Linked DNA regions of Homo sapiens: region 1 is linked to region 2. A link means that fine-mapping ties the variant in region 2 to the expression of a gene that starts in the linked region. Tissue or cell type: whole blood. Region 2 holds a variant in brackets; the other region holds the start of a gene. All regions are shown on one strand. Distances are between the middles of the regions.

Evidence for each region. PIP is the estimated chance that this variant, and not a neighbour inherited with it, causes the effect.
Region 1: it holds the start of KIAA1191, and the variant in region 2 is fine-mapped to the expression of KIAA1191 in whole blood (GTEx, PIP 0.95).

What each region holds. Positions count from the first base shown.
Region 1 is chr5:176,356,700-176,367,259 of GRCh38, forward strand. It overlaps KIAA1191, which reads right to left and starts at 5,065. Exons shown (of 9, transcript NM_020444.5): 1 at 4,903-5,065; 2 at 3,112-3,219; 3 at 2,782-2,868. The coding sequence starts at 2,809. ARL10 (ARF like GTPase 10) reads left to right here and starts at 8,788. Exons shown (of 4, transcript NM_173664.6): 1 at 8,788-9,047; 2 at 9,681-9,882. The coding sequence starts at 8,865. RefSeq lists enhancers at 4,821-5,140, 8,253-8,502 and a silencer at 8,653-9,042.
Region 2 is chr5:176,016,017-176,027,323 of GRCh38, forward strand. The region is part of intron 3 of LOC124900194 (a long non-coding RNA gene); the gene reads right to left. Among named protein-coding and RNA genes, the nearest start is that of THOC3-AS1, 50 kb to the left of the region's middle. The variant G/A (reference allele first, on the strand shown) is at 4,051.

The DNA.
Region 1 (10,560 bases), 340 kb after region 2:
CGTTTGCTAATCCTTGCATATCAGAACTAATGTCCAGAACCTACCTGAAAGGTAACATTTTCCTGTGGCTAAAATCATATAATAACACTCTCTAAGACATCAACCTGCCTGGCAATAAGTCCAAAACCACAAAAGGTTTCATTTAAACGGCAAGGGGACCAAGCAGCTATCATTATTATTACTATTGCTATTAGTAATAATTAACAAAACCATAGAAATAAAAAGAGGATTAGAGGTTGCCAGGGAGTGGGTGGGGGGAGTGAGGATACGACTGCTAATGGTACGAGGTTTTCCTTTGGAGGTTATGAAAACGTACTGCAGTTTGGATGGGTGTGGTGGCTCACACCTGTAATCCCAGCACTTTGGGAGGCTGATGTGGGTGGATCACCTGAGGTCAGGCGTTCCGGCCTAGCCAACATGGTGAAATCCCATCTCTACTCAAAATACAAAAATTAGCCAGGCGTGGTGGTACGTGCCTGTAGTCCCAGCTACTTGGGAGACTGAGGCAGGAGAATTGCTTGAACCCAGGAGGCGGAGGTTGCAGAGAGCCAAGATCGTGCCACTGCATTCCAACCTAGGCAACAGAGCGAGATTCCATCTCAAAAAAAAAAAGAAAAGAAAAGAAAATGTGCTGCAATTGATCGTAGTGTTGTTTGCACAACCCTGTGAATATACTAAAAATCACGACATTGTTCACTTTCAGTGGGTGAATTTTATGATATGTGCATTACATCTCAAACACACACACAAGCAAATAATAATTACTAAGTCTTCCTCCTTGCTAGACAATTACATCCCTCATCTTATCTAATCCTCATGAAGCAGATATTCTTCCCATTTTCAAATTTTCCATTTTCACAATCAACTTGCCCAATATCACCTAGCTTGAAAGAGTGTGCTGGGAACTGGAACACAGACCTGAGCCGGTGCACACACTCTGCATGCAACACACTACAAAGCATTCACTGAATGGGCACAATCCTATGGCTCGCGACGGCTACACGGAGTTTGTGGTAATCACAGCAACAATGAAAGACAAACTAAAACGGAGCTGATGATGTTAAGACTAGAGATGGATCTATATTGGGGAATACGGGAGACTTGGGGAGCAATTTCAAAAACATCTTAAAGACTCCCACTGAACAGCCATCCTAAAACAAATAAAGTCAGCTAGTATTTACTGGAAAATATGTTCATATAAAGACAGACCAAATGCATTCTGGGCAGTAAATACATATTTATCACTGATTTTTAACTCCTGTTTTTACATATTTTGTTTAATCTTCACAACCCCGAGAGATAGGAACCATCATCTTTCTTCATCATCATACTTTACCGAGAATCAGAAATTAAGCGATTCAGATGTAATTAAAAATCACTTTCCTTTCTCATAAAACAATTCAAGTAGTCATCAATGGTGTCAATAACCCAGAACTTGACTCATTAAGGGTTGCTGTGAGCATTTTCATGATTAAGTTCAATCTGCCATTTAAGCAGGCTGGTGCCTTTTTACCAAGACTTCCATCCCACCTCCCCATCACCCCCAAAAAGGTGAGTTTAATCACTTTGGTACATACTACAAGAACTGCACAACTTATTCTGAATTATTATTTGATAACTAGGAAAGTAACAAACTTGTCATAATACCCTTAAATGAAGTGACTATTCTCTTTAAGTTAAAGTTTCATACTATGGCTGAGCGGCTAATAAAATATTTAAATGATGCCAATCTAAGGCTAGGCGTGGTGGCTCACACCTGTAATCCCAGCACTTTGGGAGGCCAAGGTGGAAGGATCACCTGAGGTCAGGAGTTTGAGACCAGCCTGGCCAACATGGAGAAACCCTGTCTCTATTAAAAATACAAAAATTAGCCGGGCGTGGTGGCAGGCAGCTGTAATCCCAGCTACTCGAGGCTGAGGCAGGAGAATCACTTGAGCCCAGGAGGCGGAGGTTGCAGTGAGCTGAGATCACACCACTGTATTCTAGCCTGGGCAGCAGAGTGAGACTCAAAAATAAAATAAAACTGGCTGGGCGTGGTGGCTCACACCTGTAATCCCAACACTTTGGGAGGCCGAGGCAGGCAGATCACAAGGTCAGGAGTTCCGCCGGGCACGGTGGCTCACGCCTGTAATCCCATTACCTTGGGAGGCCGAGGCGGGCGGATCACAAGGTCAAGAAATCGAGACCATCCTGGCTAACACGGTGAAACCTCGTCTCTACTAAAAATACAAAAAATTAGCTGGGCATGGTGGTGGGCGCCTGTAGTCCCAGCTACTCGGGAGGCTGAGGCAGGAGAATGGTGTGAACCCGGGAGGCGGAGCTTGCAGTGAGCTGAGATCGCGCCACTGCACTCCAGCCTGGGCGACAGAGCAAGACTCTGTCTCAAAAAAAAAAAAAAAAAAAAAGGTCAGGAGTTCCAGACCAGCCTGGCCAATATGGTGAAACCCCGTCTCTACAAAAAATACAAAAATTAGCTGGGTGTGGTGGCGGGCACCTGTAATCCCAGCTACTGGGGAGGCTGAGGCAGGAGAATGGCTTGAACCCAGGAAGCGGAGGTAGCAGTGAGCCGAGATTGTGCCGCTGCACTCCAGCCTGGGCAACAGAGCAAGACTCCATCTCAAAAAAATAAAATAAAATAAAATAAGCCAATCTAGTAAATCTAAATACTCGCTTGGTAGCAGAGATTAACCATTAATATATAGTTCCGATAAAATGGTTTCTGTCTAGCTTAAAACATTAATAAGGGCAAAACATGATTTTACCAAAAAGAATTAAGTTTACCAGGCACTTCTGGTTGTCTTGAAGCCATTGAAAGACTGGGATCCAGGTGCTTTTTCTATACAGAATTCCGAGCTGAGTCCCTGCCACCTAATAAAATAACAAAGGGCATTTTCTTATGGTGAGCAGCACCAATGCTGTTCTTCTGGCAGGCACACAGAATTGAACGGCTTGTTTACAAGGTTGAAACACACATGCAAGAGCCAGTGGGTGACAAACATGCCAATGAAAAAAGAAGGATAAAGTCAAACGTCTCACCACACCTGTGGCTGATCTTAACACCTGTGAGATGACAGAGCTAAGATGCCATACATGGTGAAAAAGTCACCTTACCACAGTGAAATGATGTGATGACTAAGCGGACAGACAGATGTTAATGAGGAACATGGTCCAGCTGCTGCAAAGTAGCAAAGCTTCCCAGGAAGAGTCCATCCAGAGGTTCTAATAACAACAAACAGCCAGCATTGGAACAGCCCGTCAGAGTCTGCCAAACACTTGTTTATTCCCCACAACAACCTTGCTCATTTCATTTTCTTAACTCACAGCAAGCGGCTAGATACTACAGTAGGGAAATTTGTTCTTTATAGCTAACACTATAAACTATTTACAGCGTTTATCTTGTCTTTTAATCCTTGCAGCAAGATGGCAAAGCAGATATTATTTATCCCAATCCCAATTTTTTTTTTTTTTTTTTTTTGAGACGGAGTCTCACTCTGTCGCCCAGGCTGGAGTGCAGTGGCGCGATCTTGGCTCACTGCAAGCTCCACCTCCCGGGTTCACGCCATTCTCCTGCCTTAGCCTCCCAAGTAGCTGGGACTACAGGCGTCTGCCACCACGCCTGGCTAATTTTTTGTATTTTTAGTAGAGATGGGGTTTCACCGCACTAGCCAGGATGGTCTTGATCTCCTGACCTTGCGATCCGCCCACCTCGGCCTCCCAAAGTGCTAGGATTACAAGCGTGAGCCACCGCGCCCGACCCCAGTTTTTTTTTTAAGCTATCTCTTACAGAAAGGCTATCCCAAATTTAAAGAGAAGGAAACTGGCCGGGTGCGGTGGCTCACGCCTGTAATCCCAGCATTTTGCGAGACCCAGGCGGGCAGATCACTTGAGGTCAGGAGTTCGAGACTAGCCTGGCCAACATGGTGAAACCCCATCTCTACTAAAAATACAAAAATTAGCCGGGCATGGTGGCGGGCGCCTGTAATCCCAGCTACTCGGGAGGCTGAGGCAGGAGAATAGCTTGAACCCGGGAGGCGGAGGTTGCAGTGAGCCGAGATCGAGCCACTGTACTCCAGCCTGGGCGACGGAGTGAGACTCGGTCTCAAAAATAAAAATTAAAAAAATTAAAAAAATGTTAAAAATAATAATAAAGAGAAGGAAACTAAAAATCAGAGGAGTTAAGTAAATTTGTCCACGGTCACAGATAAGTGGTCCGTGCGCAAGGTAGGTAGTTTCATGCCCAGTTTACAGGGGAGTTAAAACGAGGGCCTGAGAAAGTTACTCTTGTTTTTCAGCTTGCTACACCGTCCCTCTATCCCGATAGGACTCAGACAGAGCAAACAAGTTATTGATAGTTCTTCACTAACGAGCATCGCAAAGGCCGAATTCAGCCATCCTCCCAGTCCAGGGAGCATTCCCGCCCCAGACACGTCCCCTTCCCCTTTCCCTTTCCCTGTGCCCCCACCCCCCAGCTCACCGTCCCTCTGCCTCTCCTTCACAATATACAAGACGGTGCCGCCAGGATACGAAAGGCCGGCTGCTTCACCCACCCCTCCAGGCTAAGATTAGGGCCAGGACCCTAGCCGAAGGCGGGGTGTGGGGAGATGAGGTTGAGGACAAGCCGCGGGGGCTCGGGCTGGGCTGGTCCCACGAAGCGGAGGGGAAGCCCGTACGGGAGCTGCAGGGCATTCCCGGAGAGAAGCCCCATTACGGAGACCCCAGAGAGCGGAGCCAGGGAGGCAAGAGGCGACCCAGCCGAGCTCGAAGCCGGGATGAAGGGTTAAGAGGTGCGGGGAGAGGGGAGTGGCTTGGAGGGGCCCCGAGATCGGGCCTCGCCGGAAGCGCCCCTCCTGATCGCCAGAGAACGCAGCCCCAAGGGAGGGCCCAGGCCCGCCATCTGTTCACCTGTGATCCTGCTGCCGCGGGACTGCCTGCGGCCCGGAGTCCGGCACTAAAAAGGTTCCGAGGGCCCACGTCTCCCGAGAGGCTGTGGCGCAGTCTGGACCCAAGCCATTGTGAGAGCGGCGGCGATTTCGAAGGTCCCCAAGACCCACTAGGTAGCAGTACCACCCAGCGGGCAGGCAGCACTGCAGATAAAGCCTCCGGAGACCGCGGGATCTCGCGCGAGACTTGGCCCAGCGGAGCACAGGGCATGCTGGGAGTTGTTGTCCACGATCGCGAGACCCGCCCCCTCCCCATGCCCTTCGCCGCCCAGCGAGTTGTGGAGCCGCAGCTCCGAGTGTGGAATCCGCCAGCCCCGAGAGGAAACGCCACACTTCACCACCACTTCCTCAGCGCGTGTGCTGTGCCTGGGTCCGTGACAAGCTAAGGGAAGACGGAGGTAGCATAGTAAAATGACACCCACAAACCCAAGCCCTCAAGGCTCAAAAAGGGCTGCCAAGTGCGAGCACTTGTCATCCTGTTTTTCCCACTTCACGGAGGTGAAGCTGAGACTGGGAGAGATGAGAAGTCACTTCGATTAGCAAGCGGTGCAGTGAGCACGGACTGTCTCCCAAAACAGCGGGGTTAGGCAGGGTTCGTACTAGTAGCTGAACCAAAAAAGGGAACCGACCTCACCTGCCTCCCCTAGGGAAGGCGATCCTAATATCATTTCTCTTTTACATAAAGGAGAGTGAGGCTTAGAGGCGCCAGCTGAGGTGTCAGTCACATCCTGAAGGAAGACTTCTCTTATCCCTGAAGGGTTCACAAAGAAGGCGAAGCAACGAAGTTACAGCAGAATTTGCAAAAATCTATCCACGTTTCTACCCCAGTCCAAAGCTCGCCATCAAAACTCATCTCAGGAGAGCTATGATTGGTGGTGCAGGGTGAATGTCACATTTAGATTTCAGCATTTGAGGCTTCCAGCCGTACTGGCAGAACTGAGAGGCCTTGCTCATGCGACTTGAAACTTAAGCGCTGTTTCCAGACCAGGGTGCTTGAGTGCACTAAGAATTAAAGTCTTTGATGAATTCTATAATTAGCTTATCAACAGCACAATTACATTGCAGTATAATTGTGTGTATATGTGTGCGTGCGTGTGTGTGTTAAAGGTGTTCCTTTGTTAATTTGGAGCTTTTAAAATATGCCATATTTTTTAACCTCTGTGGAAGCAAAGCTGGCACCTTGCTCTTTATCCACCACAGGAAGGGATGTATATCACCTCTCAGTCAGAAAAGGAAGAAATAGCACTTTGCACCCTTATGTAGATCATAAGGTGGGATCATCTCATTTATTTCTTAGCCACAAATACATGAAAACTTAAGACTTTCCTGGAAGTTACTATTTGATTAAAACAACTTTTTCTGGCTGGGCACGGTGGTTCAGGCCTGTAATCCCAACACTTTCAGAGGCTGAGGCGTTCGAGACCATCCTGGCCAACACGGCGAAACCCCGTCTCTACTAAAATACAAAAATCAGCCAGGCGTAGTGACAGGTGCCTGTAATCCCAGCTATTCTGGAGACTGAGGCAGGAGAATCTCTTGAACCTGGGAGACGGAGGCTGCAGTCTGCCTTGTCCTAGGTACCCCCAGTGACTGCCAAGGCTTCCACGTGTGTAGCACGAGGAGGAAGAACAGGAGAAACGACCTGAGTACAGCAGTCGGGTTCTTTTGGCTCTCCAGAGGGGTGACGCCATGTACGGCTGGCTGTAGGGTACATGGGTTGAGAGACCGCCTGTGGCTCTCAGGGCCCAGCAGGGCTACCTCTTTCCCTTTATATTGTCTCAACTCTTCACCTCCTTTTAGTTCGCGATTCCTCTGTACCCCTGGCTCTGGGTCCCAGCCCCTATTCCTTCTGATTTGTCCCCCTTTCCCTTTGACTACATATATATGCTCCTCTCCTCCCAGATAGTGATGTTTTAGCTACATCTTATTTCTTCCGGCATTGATTCTTTTGAAAAATTTATTTCTGGCTGGGTGTGGTGGCTCATGCCTGTAATCCCAGCACTTTGGGAGGCCTGAGATCACACTACTGCACTCCAGCCTGGGCTACAGAGTGAGACTCCATCTCAAAAAAAAAAAAAACTTTATCCCTGATATTTGTGGTACCAATGTCTGAAGCTGTCATGGTCTTGGTGCATAGCACCTATGTGAGAGCACCTATTTCTTTTCCACAAATAATAGACTGTAAACATTTTTTTTTTTTTTTTTTTTGAGACAAGGTCTCGCTCTGTTGCCCAGGCTGGAATGCAGTGGCGCAATCTCGGCTCACAGTAACCTCTGCCTCCCAGTTTCAAGCGATTCTCCTGCCTCAGTCTACCAAGTAGCTGGGACTACAGGCGCCTGCCACCACGCCCGGCTCCACGCCCGGCTAATTTTTTGGATTTTCAGTAGAGATGGGGTTTCACCGTGTTAGCCAGGATGGTCTCGATCTCCTGACCTCGTGATCCGGCCGGCTGCCTCGGCCTCCCAAAGTGCTGGGATCACAGGCGTGAGCCACCGCACCAGCCAAACTTTTAATCTTAGCAATTTTGTGGGTTTTCCCCTCTAAGTGGGTGTATTTTTGAGGAGGAGCTAATTTTTTTTTCTTTTTTTTTTTTTTTGAGACGGATTCTTGCTCTGTCACCCAGGCTGGAGGGCAGTGGCGCAATCTCAGCACACTGCAACCTCCTCCTCCTGGGTTCAAGCGATTCTCCTGCCTTAGCCTCCTGAGTAGGTGGGATTACAGGCACGTGCCACCACGCCCGGCTAATTTTTGTAGAGATGGGGTTTCACCATGTTAGGCAGGCTATTCTCGAACTCCTGACCTCAGGTGATCCGCCTGCCTCGGCCTCCCAAAGTGCTGGGATTACAGGCATGAGCCACCACACCCGGCCAGAAATAAATTTTTCAAAAGAATCAATGCCGGAAGAAATAAGATGTAGCTAAAACATCACTATCTGGGAGGAGAGGAGCATATATATGTAGTCAAAGGGAAAGGGGGACAAATCAGAAGGAATAGGGGCTGGGACCCAGAGCCAGGGGTACAGAGGAATCGCAAACTAAAAGGAGGTGAAGAGTTGAGACAATATAAAGGGGAAGAGGTAGCCCTGCTGGGCCCTGAGAGCCACAGGCGGTCTCTCGACCCATGTACCCTACAGCCAGCCGTACATGGCGTCACCCCTCTGGAGAGCCAAAAGAACCCGACTGCTGTACTCAGGTCGTTTCTCCTGTTCTTCCTCCTCGTGCTACACACGTGGAAGCCTTGGCAGTCACTGGGGGTACCTAGGACAAGGCAGTCAGCCCTAAACATTCTGAAGTCCTGACACTGCTTAATTCAGCCTGACCAGGACCCCAGCAAAACCCCTGTGGTCCGGGAGGCAGCGAAAGAAGGCTAGAGGTGGCGGGGAGCCACGGACCTGGGTTCTATTCCTGCCTCTGCCACCCCACTGCCGTGTGATATCGGGCGTCTTGCTTCAATTTCCTCCCGAGGTCTTGAGGGATGACCGGGAGACAGATCGCTTGGGTTTGAACGCAGGCTACACCAAAGCACTACGATGCGGCGTTGGGCGGGTTACTTAACTCCTGGGCCTCGGTTTTCCCTTCTGCGTGGTATCATTGTAAGGGGTAACGGAGAAAAGCCGTGAGCTAACCCCTGGTGGATGCTAGCAAGCACCGCCGTCTCCCGTCCTCCCCAGGCACAGCCTCTCCTTCCTCCACCCTGCACCTGGCAGGGGGACCGGAGGTCCCCGCGCGCCGGCCAGCGCCCCACCACCCACGCCGCCGGGTCCCGGGCGGCCTGCCGTGACAGCGGCAGTGCATTGTGGGGCTTGTAGTGCGGGACTGGGTCTGGGTGGGTGGGCGCGGCCGCAGCAGTCGCAGCGGGGCCATCTTCGGCGGGCGAGTGGGCTCGGCCTGTGCAACCCGCACCTGCGTCCCTCGCCCGGCCCGATGGCGCCGCGGCCGCTGGGCCCCTTGGTGCTGGCGCTGGGCGGCGCCGCGGCGGTGCTGGGCTCGGTGCTCTTCATCCTCTGGAAGACCTACTTCGGCCGCGGCCGAGAGCGGCGCTGGGACCGGGGAGAGGCCTGGTGGGGCGCGGAGGCTGCCCGCCTCCCCGAGTGGGACGAGTGGGACGTGAGTGCCGGGCCGAGGCCTGCGGAAGGGCGGGCAGGCTGGGCTGCGACTCCGCGCATGTGGCCAAGGGGTGTGACCACGGAACGGCCCTGCTGGTGCCGGGAGCTTGGGGGGTCGAGGGCTTGGCAGCCGCAGCGCACAGGCCCCGCGCGGGTGGGCGGTCAGAGCCCGGGAACCGAGGAACGGGTGGGTGTGCTTGGGTGCGTGCGGCGCCTTGGCGCCACGCCGTCGCTCCACGCCATGAGGCTCGGGTGTTCCAGCGGGGGCCGGAGTTTGGAGGGCGCGGCTCGGGAGCATCCCGGGGCCCAGCCGGGTCGGCTCGCGCCCCTCCGGCGCCTGCGCAGTGCACCCCGCCCGGGGGTGGGGATGTCGGGAGAAACCCCATCCCCTCCCGCCTGCGGTCGGGACTCCGAGACCGGTGGAGGAAGCGGGGCGCGCGAGCGTTTAAGGAATTCGCCAAGGGTTTGGAATTCAGGACTGCAAAGGCGGCGTTCGTCCCACTCATCCAGACCATGCCTGCCTGTCCCAGGACGGGTGGAAGGCGGGCCTGGGCCCTCTGGTGCCTTCGGTCTTCCCTCGGGAAAGGTCCTTCGGGAGGCCGCCAGCCGCAACCTTACCTCCGCTTCCCCGCAGCCCGAGGACGAGGAGGACGAGGAGCCGGCGCTGGAGGAGCTGGAACAGCGCGAGGTGCTGGTGCTGGGGCTGGATGGCGCAGGCAAGAGCACGTTCCTGCGCGTGTTGTCGGGGAAGCCACCGCTGGAAGGCCACATCCCCACCTGGGGCTTCAACTCCGTGCGTCTGCCCACCAAGGACTTTGAGGTGGACCTGCTAGAAAGTGAGCGGACACCCTACCCCATCTCCCCGTCTCCTCTACTGGACCAGTCCTGGATTCTCTGCAGGGAAGGGGGCTTCCAAAATGCATGTCTAAGCAGCACATTCCCCTCTACGAATCCTTCCCACCGCTCTCCGGGGCACAGGATTCAGCCCACGCTCTGTGCTCTGACATTTAGGGCCCTTCGTGATCGGGCCTCTCCAGCTGCACCGCCTGCCCCATCACCCCTACCAAAGTCGATAGGCCTAACACAGAGATACTAACAGCTAAGGGTTCATATGCCAAGCACTTGACGGGCATTGCTTAAGAAAACTCCCCTAAACAATTACATAAAACTAGAATCGGTCACTACCCTCGTTATCTCCAGAGGAAAATGAGTTCCAGCAGTAGTATCATGAATCCAAGGTCACCCACCTTTCTAGTCTTTTTTTTTTTTTTTTTTTTTTTGAGATGGAGTCTCACTGTGACACCCAGGCTGGAGTGCAATGGCGCTGTCTCGGCTCACTGCAACCTCCTCCTCCCGGGTTCAAGCGATTCTCCAGCTTCAGCCTCCTGAGCAGCTGGGATTACAGGCGCCCGCCACCACGCCCGGCTAATTTTTGTATTTTTAGTAGAGACGGGGGTTTCACCACATTGGTCAGGCTAGTCTTGAACTCCTGACCTCAAGTGATCTGCCCGCTT
Region 2 (11,307 bases):
ATCCTATTTTAAAAACATGTTAATTTTGAGATACCTAAAAGAAACACTTGCTGAAGTATGAAAGTGATCGAGGAAATGGGGAGATGTGAGTCAAAGGACACAAAATAGCAGATATGTGGGATGAACGAGTCTAGACATCTAATGTACAACATGAGGGCTAAGGTTAATACGATTGTAATGTACTAGGGATTTGTGTTCGATAGATTCTAGCTGCTCGTCACAAAAAAGTAACTACGTGAGATGATAGATATGTTAATCAGCTTCATTACAGTAACTGCTGTACTAGCTATATGTATCCCATAATATGTTGTAATCCTCAAGTGTACACAATAGCATTTATTTTTAGAAAACAAGTGATACTATACTCTGGTTTGATATGTTATTTCTGTCAATTAATACTACACTTTGCATGTTAAGCACTGTCATACTATTAGATAACACTGCTTACAAAAATACTATGGATACTATGAAATTATTTTGACCCAAACAATGACCTTTCTTTTTTTTCTTTTGAAACAGAGTCCCCCTCTGTCACCCAGACTGGAATGAGTGATGTGATCTCAGCTCACTGCAACCTCTGCCTTTGAGCTCAAGTGATTCTCCTGCCTCAGCCTCGCGAGTAGCTGGGACTACACGCATGCGCCACCACACCTGGCTAATTTTTTTTTTAATTCTTTTTAAATTTTTGAGGTGGACTCTCGCTCTGTTGCCCAGGCAGGCTAGAGTACGGAGTACAGTGGCGCAATCTCGGCTCACTGCAACCTCCGCCTCCCAGGTTCAAGTGATTCTCCTGCCTCAGCCTACTGAGTAGCTGGGATTACAGGTGCACATCACCATGCCTGGCTAATTTTTGTATTTTTAGTAGAGACAGGGTTTTACCATGTTAGCCAGGCTGGTCTCTAACTCCTGGCCTCAAGTAATCCTCCCGCCTCGGCCTCCCAAAGTGCTGGGATTACAGACCTGAGGCACTGCACCTGGCCACAACGACCTAATTATTTAAGGAATAAGTGGGATGTTAATGGCCCATTTTATAATTCAAATCCTGGTGATCATGAGTATATTAACTTATATTCTTTTCTATATTTAAAAAAATAAGCAGTGTGTTATTACACTATAGTTTTGCAAGATGTTGCCATTGCAGAAGCTGGGTGAAGCATACATAGGATGTCTTTGATTATTTATTATACCAGCATGTGAACCAACAATTATCTCAAAAATCAAAGTTTAATTAAAAAAAAATTAACCAAAGATCAAGGGGATAGATGATAGGGATAGGAAATGAGTTAACAAAATCCTTTATCCATCTCTGTAAAACAATTTGACCTTGGGTTAGCTTACTACCGCAGTTCCCCTACCTACCAAGAAAGCACGTCAACTATGTTCCTAAAGCAACTTATTTATAGTTCTGATTGCCTTGGTAACCTGCTAGAAACACTCATCAGTTTCACTACTAGGCAACACTGCTTATGACAAGCCTGACTCCTGGTTGGTAAACTGTATCTGAACTTGGCAAGCCCCTTGCAGGAACACTGAAAACCACACTCACTATATTCATAGGTTACTATAAGATAGTGGGTCTGGTAGGGCTTAGGGCTTCAAAGCCAGCGTGAGTTCTTCTTACCTGAGCTGTCACTTGACACATCAGAAGAAACAGCTGCTGAATACCTGTGCGTGCTTTTTTTGTTTTTGTTCTTGAGACAGAGTCTCACCCTGTCACCTAGGCTGGAGCACAGTGGAGGGATCTTGGCTCACTGCAACCTCCGCCTACTAGGTTCAAGCGATTCTCCTGCCTCAGCCTCCCGAGTAGCTGGCATTACAGGTGTGTGCCACCACACCTGGCTAATTTTTGTATTTTTAGTGTAGGCAGGGTTTCACCATGTCGACCAGGCTGGTCTCAAACTTCTGACCTCAGGTGATCCACCCACCTCGGCCTCCCAAAGTGCTGGGATTACCGGTGTAAGACACTGCGCTTAGCTGCTTTTTTTTGTTTGTTTTTTAATTTAGATTTTCCTTTTTTGGAATCAGGGTCTCTCTCCATCACCCAGGCTGGAGTATAGTGGCACAATCATGGCTCACTGCAGCCTCCAACGGCTGGACTCAAGCAATCCTCCCACCTCAGCCTCCTGCATAGCTGGGACTACAGACACACACCACCCCCACCACATCCAGCTAATTTTTAGGGGGGTGTGTGTGGTTTTTTTTTGTTTTTTGTTCTTTTAAGAGACAGGTTCTCACTATGTTGCCCAGGCTGGTCCCGAGCTCCTAGGCTCAAGTGATCCTCCCTCTTCAGCCCCTCAAAGTGCTGGGATTACAGGTGTGATCCACAAGCCCAGCCTGTATGTGCTTCTTAAAAGACTACTCTCACTGATGGACAATGTCTGACACAGACAATCTCACATGCTGTGCTCCCTGCATTTAATCCAAACATCATTGAAGCAATGTGATAGTGTGAGGCAATGTAATAGGTGAAGCTGTGGCTGCTGAGCCAGAAGATATTTCTGAACACTTGGTCAGGAGGATGATCACCCAAAAGTTACACCTATCTAATCTTTGAAGCTCTAATCCATCATCTAAGCTCTTCATGTTAAGACCCATGGGTATGTTTATTAACCATATTTATTAACCTCTCCTTCTTGGGACAGAAAACGTTTACCTCAACTTAAAGATTGTTGCTCAGATTTGTCCTTCTGTGTGGGTCATAGCTGCCTGGTGTCTGGAAGCCTTGGGAACACCCTGGCTCTGTTCCTCCAACACAGAATCATGCGCTTTGTGAATGTGCTGCTTTAGGCATTCAGCTGCAGGGGAAAACTTTAAAGGTTAACTTGAAATATTTGCAGAGAATATTCTGTGGTAGCAAGACATTAACATAACACAATTTGCTGCTACTTGGTCTTTGCTAAACAAGCTATTGCTACTTGGTGTTTGTTAATGAAAGGAGCTCTTAAGACTCTTATGAATTTGTCCTGCTTAAAATATATTATATTGGGCTGGGCGTGGTGGCTCACACCTGTAATCCCAGCACTTTGGGAGGCCACGGTGGGCAGATCATGGGGTCAGGAGGTTGAGACCATCCTGGCTAAAACGGTGAAACCCCATCTCTACTAAAAATACAAAAAATTAGCTGGGCATGGTGGCACGCACCTATAGTCCCAGCTACTAGGGAGGCTGAGGCAGGAGAATTGCTTGAACCCAGGAGGCAGAGGTTGCAGTGAGCCGAGATGGCACCACTGCACTCCAGCCTGGGCAACAGAGTGAGACTCCGTCTCAGAAGAAAAAAGAATCATATCGTCTCAAACAGGCAGCGAAGATTGAAATGTTGCCACCCATAGGATTCTTCACTGGAGGTGACTAAGACCAGCATAAGTCCGTGTTATTTGCACCACTAAGTCATATTTCTCAGACTGATGTATTGCCAAACCAAGAAATGGAAAGTATTAAGATAATGTCAATAATAACATGAATGAGAATAGAGTAAGTGTGGACCACTTGTTAGAACTGGCTCGATTACAAACGTGTTGCTCAAACCTAATAGCTTTAGTCTTCTTCAAGAAGATTAGATTTGGATTTCAATTAGTGTTACTAACTGGCATGGGTATAATGATATGCTGAACCTGTAATATGATTACAGGTTCAGGTCCTTATTTGTTATATTATTAGACAATTTCTGTTAAATGTCATATAAGAAAAGTGTAAAAGATGATTGCAGAATCGGAACCGTGGGATGAAGCGGAACGTGACACACTGAGGTCTTACGGGTGGTAGAGCAATTTGCTCCCAACTGGGACCATCTGAAGGCACAAGGCTGTGCCCCAGCTCAGGTCCACAGCTAAACATTGAGAAACATATCAGCAGAATGCAGAGCCTCTCCTCCGGTAAATTACTTGAGATGAAAGTTCTTAACCAACATGAAATAACTGAACTGAGTTTGATAAAATTCAGCTGGGCCTTTCAGGGGCCTTTCCCACCAGCAGAACCCTCATTTGGGAAAAGTAAATTTGCCAGGAGAAAGTTAAGAGAGGCTACGTTGAGTTAACTTGAACAAGCGGCTAA[G/A]GGACAGTTTAAGTTTATACGGCAATTAGAGGTTTAATGAAATTTAATTTACAGCTGGGAGAATAAGAAATTGCTCTGTCTACTTGGGGACATCCAGCATCACTGCAATTCTCGACTGTCTTCAGACCTGCTTGTATCCTTTCCTACCAAATAAGCATGTTTCACAGAGACTTCTAAGACTGAGATGTTAATTTGCAAGAGACTTGAGCAGACATTTTGCAAAGGAATATATACAAATGGCCCATAAACACATGAAAAGGTGCTCAACGTCATCTGTCTTCCGGGAAATGCAAATTAAAACTACAATGAGATACCACTATATAGTCAGGCTAAAATGAAAAAGATGCCACTAGCAAGTGCTGGTGAGTATATGAGCGGTCAGAACTCTTATACACTGCTCTTGGGGGTGTACAGTGATACAACCACCTTGGAAAACTATAGCAGTTTGGAATAGAGTTAAACATCACCTACTGCTATGGACAGAATGTTTGTGTCCCCTCCTAAGTTCATATCTTGAAGCCCCAACTTCCACTGTGATGGTTTTGGAGACAGGGCTTTTGGGAGATAATTAGGGTTAAAGGAGGTCATGAAGATGGGGCCCTTGCAATGGGATTAGCATCCTTATAAAAAGAGACTCCAGAGAACTTGCCCTCTCTCTTCCTGTGTTGTAATTTCTTTCTAATGTGGTCTTGAGGCATCTCTTTCTGGAGAGTGGCTACAAACAATAACCCTGCCCTCACAGGGCACCAAGCATGTTGCTCATAAAAGGAATGTTTACAGTTTACCTTTCACAGGATCCTTCTTGATCCTGGCAGGTGGCCTCATGCCCAAGTGCTCAACCTGTGACAGATGTCCCTTTCACAGGAAGCTTGTATATAGAGGACGATGCCCTTGTAGCTGTTGTCTGACCTGTGTTCAATTTATTCCTACCAAGACAGCCACTCTCTAGGGCAGCCCTGATGAGGAGGGTTGGGTTCGGGTGTGTCAGTCAGGTGAGACACAGTGTGTGCAATAAAACACATGAAATAGCAGGAGTAGTTGATTACTCACAGATCCCAGAGAGAGGAGGGCACCATGCCTCGCAGGGCCAGCAGGAAGTGGGGAGCCATTCAGGATACCCACGTTTAGCCAGCAGGTGGGGACTGAAAGAGAGAGGACCTCTAGGACTAAAGCCTTTATTGGGGTCCAGGGTGTGACCCCAGCAAGTTTCCCATAGGAAGCTCTAATTGATTGTTTAGAGCAAGCAGGCACGAGCTCCAGGTGATCATGCTGTGACTGGGAAGTGGGCACTGTGGTGTATCTGGGCAGACCACGTAGGGTGAGGGGTCAGAGGGTGAGTCAAGGGCAGACCACGCAGGGTGAGGGGTCAGAGGGTGAGTCAAGTACGTTGTATCCAGCTCCCCTCCAGGGAGGTGGTGCCTGGGAGGTGGCTGTACATGGCAGATATCTGAGTTGACCACTTTGAGGAACTGGAAGGAGTTAAAGAACTGGAAATGGTGTTAAGGGTAATTATGCCATGCTTCTGGTATGAGAAAGTCCAACTTAAATTCAAAACGGGGGCCGGGCATGGTGGCTCATGACTGTAATCCCAGCACTTTGGGAGGCTAAGGTGGATGGATCACTTGAGGTCAGGAGTTTGACACCAGCCTGGCCAACATGGTGAAACCCTGTCTCTACTAAAAATGTAAAAATTAGCCACGCGTGGTGGTGCATGCTTGTAATCCCAGCTACTCGGGAGGCTGAGGCAGAATCGCTTGAACTCGGGAGGCAGAGGTTGTAGTGTGCCAAGATCACGCCACTGACTTCCAGTGTAGGTGACAGAGTGAGATTCTGTCTCAAAAAACAACAACAACAAAAATGGATTCCATGGCAACATAAAATTGTAGGAATTCACTACACCATGCACCTACACAAAGAAGTAATCACAGGTACACACATAGGGAGACAACTTGTAGGCACAAACCAAGAGAAGAGGCCTCAGAATGAAATCCACCTTGCCAGCACCTTGACCTTGGACTGCCCAGACCAGAACTGTGAGAAATTTCTGTTAAGTTACCTAGTCTATGGCATTCTGCTATGGCCACACAAGCAGACCAATATACCTAACTAACAACCATCAATTCTGTCTTCGGTATTTGTCCACAGGAGATGAAATCCATGTCCACTACAAGACTTGTACACTAATGTTCACAGCAGCCTTACTCACAATAACTTCAAAACAATGCAAATATCCATCAATGGTAACTGGAGAAACAAATTGTCTGTGTGTGCAGTGCAATACTCCACAGCAATGACAATGGAACTACTGCTACGCAGGGCAGCACACATGAATCTCATGAGTGATACAATTTCATGAAAGACGCCAGATGCAAATAAAGCACAGACTATATGATTCCATTTGTAGGAAGTTTTAAAACTGGTGACATTAACCTATAGGGGAAGAAGTCGGTCACTGATTCAAGAAGTACCTTCTTGGAGAGCACCAATGTCCCCACAGAGAGCCGCCAAGAGTCACCAACCAAAAAAAATAGAGATGGATGGAAAGCTCCCAAGCTGCAGGGTTCTTCCCACGCAGAACCAGAACGCAAAGGAAATGTGTGGACACCACAGAAAAGGAACCAACACCAGGACAGGGGCCGGGAGGAGGAGGAACAAGGGTTCTGAGCGAGAATCGGTCCTCCAGGGATGGTCGGGGATTGCACGCAGTGGCCATGCTGCGAACGCTCTCCCCAGCCCCCACCACTGGACAGATTGTTTTGAAGATGTTGAAAGAACTTTTCTTAAGACAAAGAGAATGATCTGCGGGTTTCAAAGTCAATGGCATCACATATTTCAACGTCGTCCAGAAAACAGCCTCTCCTGGTAAATCCTGTCTCTGGTTATTCCTCACAGACTCAGCCCAGCTCCTGGGCAACATCAAAGTCAGCTTCCCCTGGGAACCCAGTGAGTGTCTGCTCCCATCTTCTCCTTAATGAACAGCCAGTCTGTAGGCTTTAAATATAGTCTGCCACTATCTGTTTAAATTGTTGTGTACATTCACACACACACACGTGCACACATGCACACAACAGCTTCTGTCAGCTTGCGGGGACATCCATTTTGTAAGCAATGCAAATTAAAGCTGTGATCCAATCTGGGTGAACCTCCTCCTCCCCGACTTAGAATCGAAGCAGAGTGTACTGCGGCAGGGAGCTGGGGGACGACGACGCAACCTTTGAAGACCTGCCTCTAAAAAGAGTCAAGTCTTGTCTGTATCAGCAGAACTTAAAATTAAAAGGCAAGAGCCACAGCTCTCACCAGCTCTTTAAAAGGTTAAAATTGGCTGGGTGCAGGCTGGGTGTGGTAGCTCACGCCTGTAATCTCAGCACTTTGGGAGGCCGAGGCGGGCGGATCACGAGGTCAGGAGCTCGAGACCAGCCTGGCCAAGATGGTGAAACCCTGTCTCTACTAAAAATACAAAAATTAGCTGGGCACAGTGGCATGCACCTAATTTTTAAAAATTAGCCAGACAAGGTGGCATGCACCCGCAGTCCTAGCTACTCAGGTGGCTGAGGTGGGAGGATTCCTTGAGCCCAGAAGTTCGAGGCTGCACTGAGCCGAGATCGTGCCAGTACACTCCAGCCTGGTGATAAAGTGAGGCTTTGTCTCTAAATAAATAAATAAATAAATAAATAAATAAATAAATAAAGTGTCTGGAAATTGTCCTAAGGGCATACAGCAAATGAAGAAATATTTATTCTAGAAAATCTACAAAAATTCAGAAAGAACCATGAGTCTCTGTGATATTGAGCTACAACCCACTCCCTTCTCCTCCTTCCCCCAGCTCAGAGTGATGGAGGCTCTGCTCCAGGTAGGTCGGGTTAAGAGTAGGTGGTTCCCTCCTTGCTCAGCTGCCACTCAAGCTCACCATATCACACTGGGAGGCATGGGCTGCCAGCATTTCTCATCCCCTCTCTTGAGGAACCACAAAGAAAAGAACTGAAAAATATAGTTAAAGAATTATTAAAGTAACCAAAATGTGACACTGGAAAATATTTACTGAATGCAAAAGAATGTAGTAAATAAGGTAGGAGAGAACAAAGAAAGACATGAGACATAGAAAACATGAATGACAGACACAGATCCAACCATATAACAAAATCCTTAAATGTGAACAGATTAAACAATCCAATTAGAAGGCAGAGATGTCAGGCTTGGTTAAAAAACAAACTATATGCTGTCTACAGGAAATACACTTTAGATTCAAAGATACAAACAGGCTGAAAGTAAAAAGATGGGAAAAAGACATACCGTGAAAACAGCAACCATAGCAAGCTGGAATGGCTATATCAATATGAGACAAAATAGACTGTAAAAATGTTACAAGAGGCCGGACGTGGTGGCTCACGCCTGTAATCCCAGCACTTTGGGAGGCGGAGGTGGGTGGATCACTTACGCTCAGGAGTTCAAGACCAGCCTTGCCTACATGGTGAAACCCCATCTCTACCAAAAATACAAAAATTATCTGGGTTGGTGGCAAGTGCCTGTAATCTCAGCTACTAGGGAGGCTGCGGCAGGAGAATCACTTGAACCTGGGAGGCGGAGCTTGCAGTGAGCAGAGATGGCACCACTGCACTCCAGCATGGGTGACAGAGCAAGAGACCCTGTCCCAAAAATTAAATAAATAAATAAATAAATAATAAAAAATAAATTAAAATGTTACAAGTGATAAAGAGGGACATTTTATAATGAACAAAGTGTCAATTCATCAGGAAGACACAACGGTTATAAACATATGCAACTAACGAAAGAGACCCAATATGATGCAAAAATGAACCACAGAACTGAAAGGAGAAATGGACAATTGAACAGTAATAGTTGGAGACTTCCATACCCAACTTTCTTTTTTTTTTTTTTTTTTTTGAGATGGAGTCTCCCTCTGTCGCCCAGGCTGGAGTGCAATGGAGCTCTATCTTGGCTCACTGCAAGCTCCGCCTCTGGGGTTCACACCATTCTCCAGCCTCAGCCTCCCAAGTAGCTGAGACTACAGGTGCCCGCCGCCATGCCGGGCTGATTTTTTTTTGTATTTTTAGTAGAGATGGGGTTTCACCGTGTTAGCCTGGATGGTCTCGATCTGCTGACCTCGTGATCTGCCTGCCTCTGCCTCCAAAAGTGCTGGGATTACAGGCGTGAGCCACCATGCCCAGCCTTCCATACCCAACTTTCGAGAACAGATACAACAGCTAGATGAAAGATTAACAAGGATATAGAAGATGTGAACATTGTTAATCCAACCAGACTAACAGATATCTACAGAACACTCCAACCAACAGAGGCAGAACACACATTCTTCTCAAGCACACACAGTACATTCTCCAAGACATACCATGTGCTAGGCCATAAAACAAACCTCAATAAATTTAGAAAGACTGAAATCATATAAAGTACATTCTGTGGCCACAGTAGAAATTAGAATTCAATAACAGAAGACCATTTGGGAAATTCACAAACATAGAAAAATTAAATGTCACACTCCTAAATAACAAAGGGATGCTATGGTTTGAATGTATCTCTCAAAACTCATGTGTTGAAAGCTTAATGCCCAATGGAACAGTATGGGCAGGTGGGGACCAATGGGAGGTGTATAGCTCATGAATGGAAACGCCACTATAAAAAGGGCCCATGGAAGCAGTTTCTATCTCTGTCTCCCTGCCCCCACCTCCTGCCATGTGAGAACACGGTGTTTCTCCTCTCTGGAAGACACAGTGCTCAAGGCACCACCTTGGAAGCAGAGAAACCAGGCCCTAACCTGCTAGCACCTTCATCTTGGATTTCCTAGCCTCTAGAACTATCAGAAAATAAATTTACATTCTTTTTTTTTTTTTTTTTTTTTGAGACAGTCTCGCTCTGTCGCCCAGCCTGGAGTGCAGTGGCGCAATCTCGGCTCACTGCAAGCTCCACCTCCCGGGTTCATGCCATTCTCCTGCCTCAGCCTCCCGAGTAGTTGGGACTACAGGCGCCCACCACCACCCCTGGCTAATTTTTTTTTTTTTTTGTATTTTTAGTAGAGATGGGGTTGCACTGTGTTAGCCAGGATGGTCTCGAACTCCTAACCTCATGATCCGCCCGCCTCGGCCTCCCAAAGTGTTGGGATTACAGGTATGAGCCACCGCACCCGTCCAGGTTTGTTTTAAATTTATTGAGGCTTGCTTCATGACTGAGCATGCGATTGATCTTAGAGAGTCTTACCTGTGCAGATGAGAAAAATGTATATTCTGTGGTTGTTGAGTGGAGTGTTCTGTAGAAAACTATTAGGTCTAACTGGTCAAGTGTTGAGTTTAAGTCCAGTTTCCTTGTTAATTTTCTGTGTTAATGATCTGTCTAACGCTGTCAGTGGGGAGTTGAGGTCTCCCTCAACTGTGTGGTTGTCTAAGTCATGTTGTAGGCCAAGAAGAACTTGTGTTATGAATCGGTTGTTCCAACGTTGGGTGAATATATATTTAAGATAGTTAAGTCTTGTTGGATTGTACCCTTCATCATTATATAATGGCCTTCATTGTCCTACTTAATTTTTATTGCTTTACCATTTGTTTTATCTAAGAATAGCAATGCCTGGGCTGGACGCGGTGGCTCAGACTTGTAATCCTAGCACTTTGGAAGGCTGAAGCAAGTGGATTGTTTGAGCACAGGAGTTGGAAATCAGCCTGGGCAACGTGGCAAAACCCCATCTCTACCACAAAATACAAAAATTAACCAGGTGTGGTGGTGCATGCCTGTAGTCCCAGCTACTCAGGAGGTTGAGGTGGGAGGATCACTTGGGAGGTTGAGTGCAGCGAGCCATAATCACACCAGTGCACTCCAGCCTCGGTGACAGAGCCCATCTCCAAAAAAAAAAAAAAAAAAAAAAAATGGTGACTTTTGCATGGTAGATATTTCTCCATCCCTTTACTTTGAGCCTGTGGATGTTGTTACACGTGAGATGAGTCCTTGAAGATGGTGGGTCTTGCCACTGGATCAGAGATTTAAGTGTAAGGCCTCAAACCATAAGAACTCTAAAAGAAAACCTAGGAAATACCATTCAGGACATTGGCCTTGGGAAACAATCTATGACTAGGTCGTCCTCAAAATCAATTGCAACACCAACAAAAGTTGACAAGTGGGACCTAATTGAATGACAGAGCTTCTTCACAGCGAAAGACATTATTAACAGAGTAAATATACAACCTATGAAATGAGAGAAAATATTCCCCAACTATGCATCTGACAAAGGTCTAATAT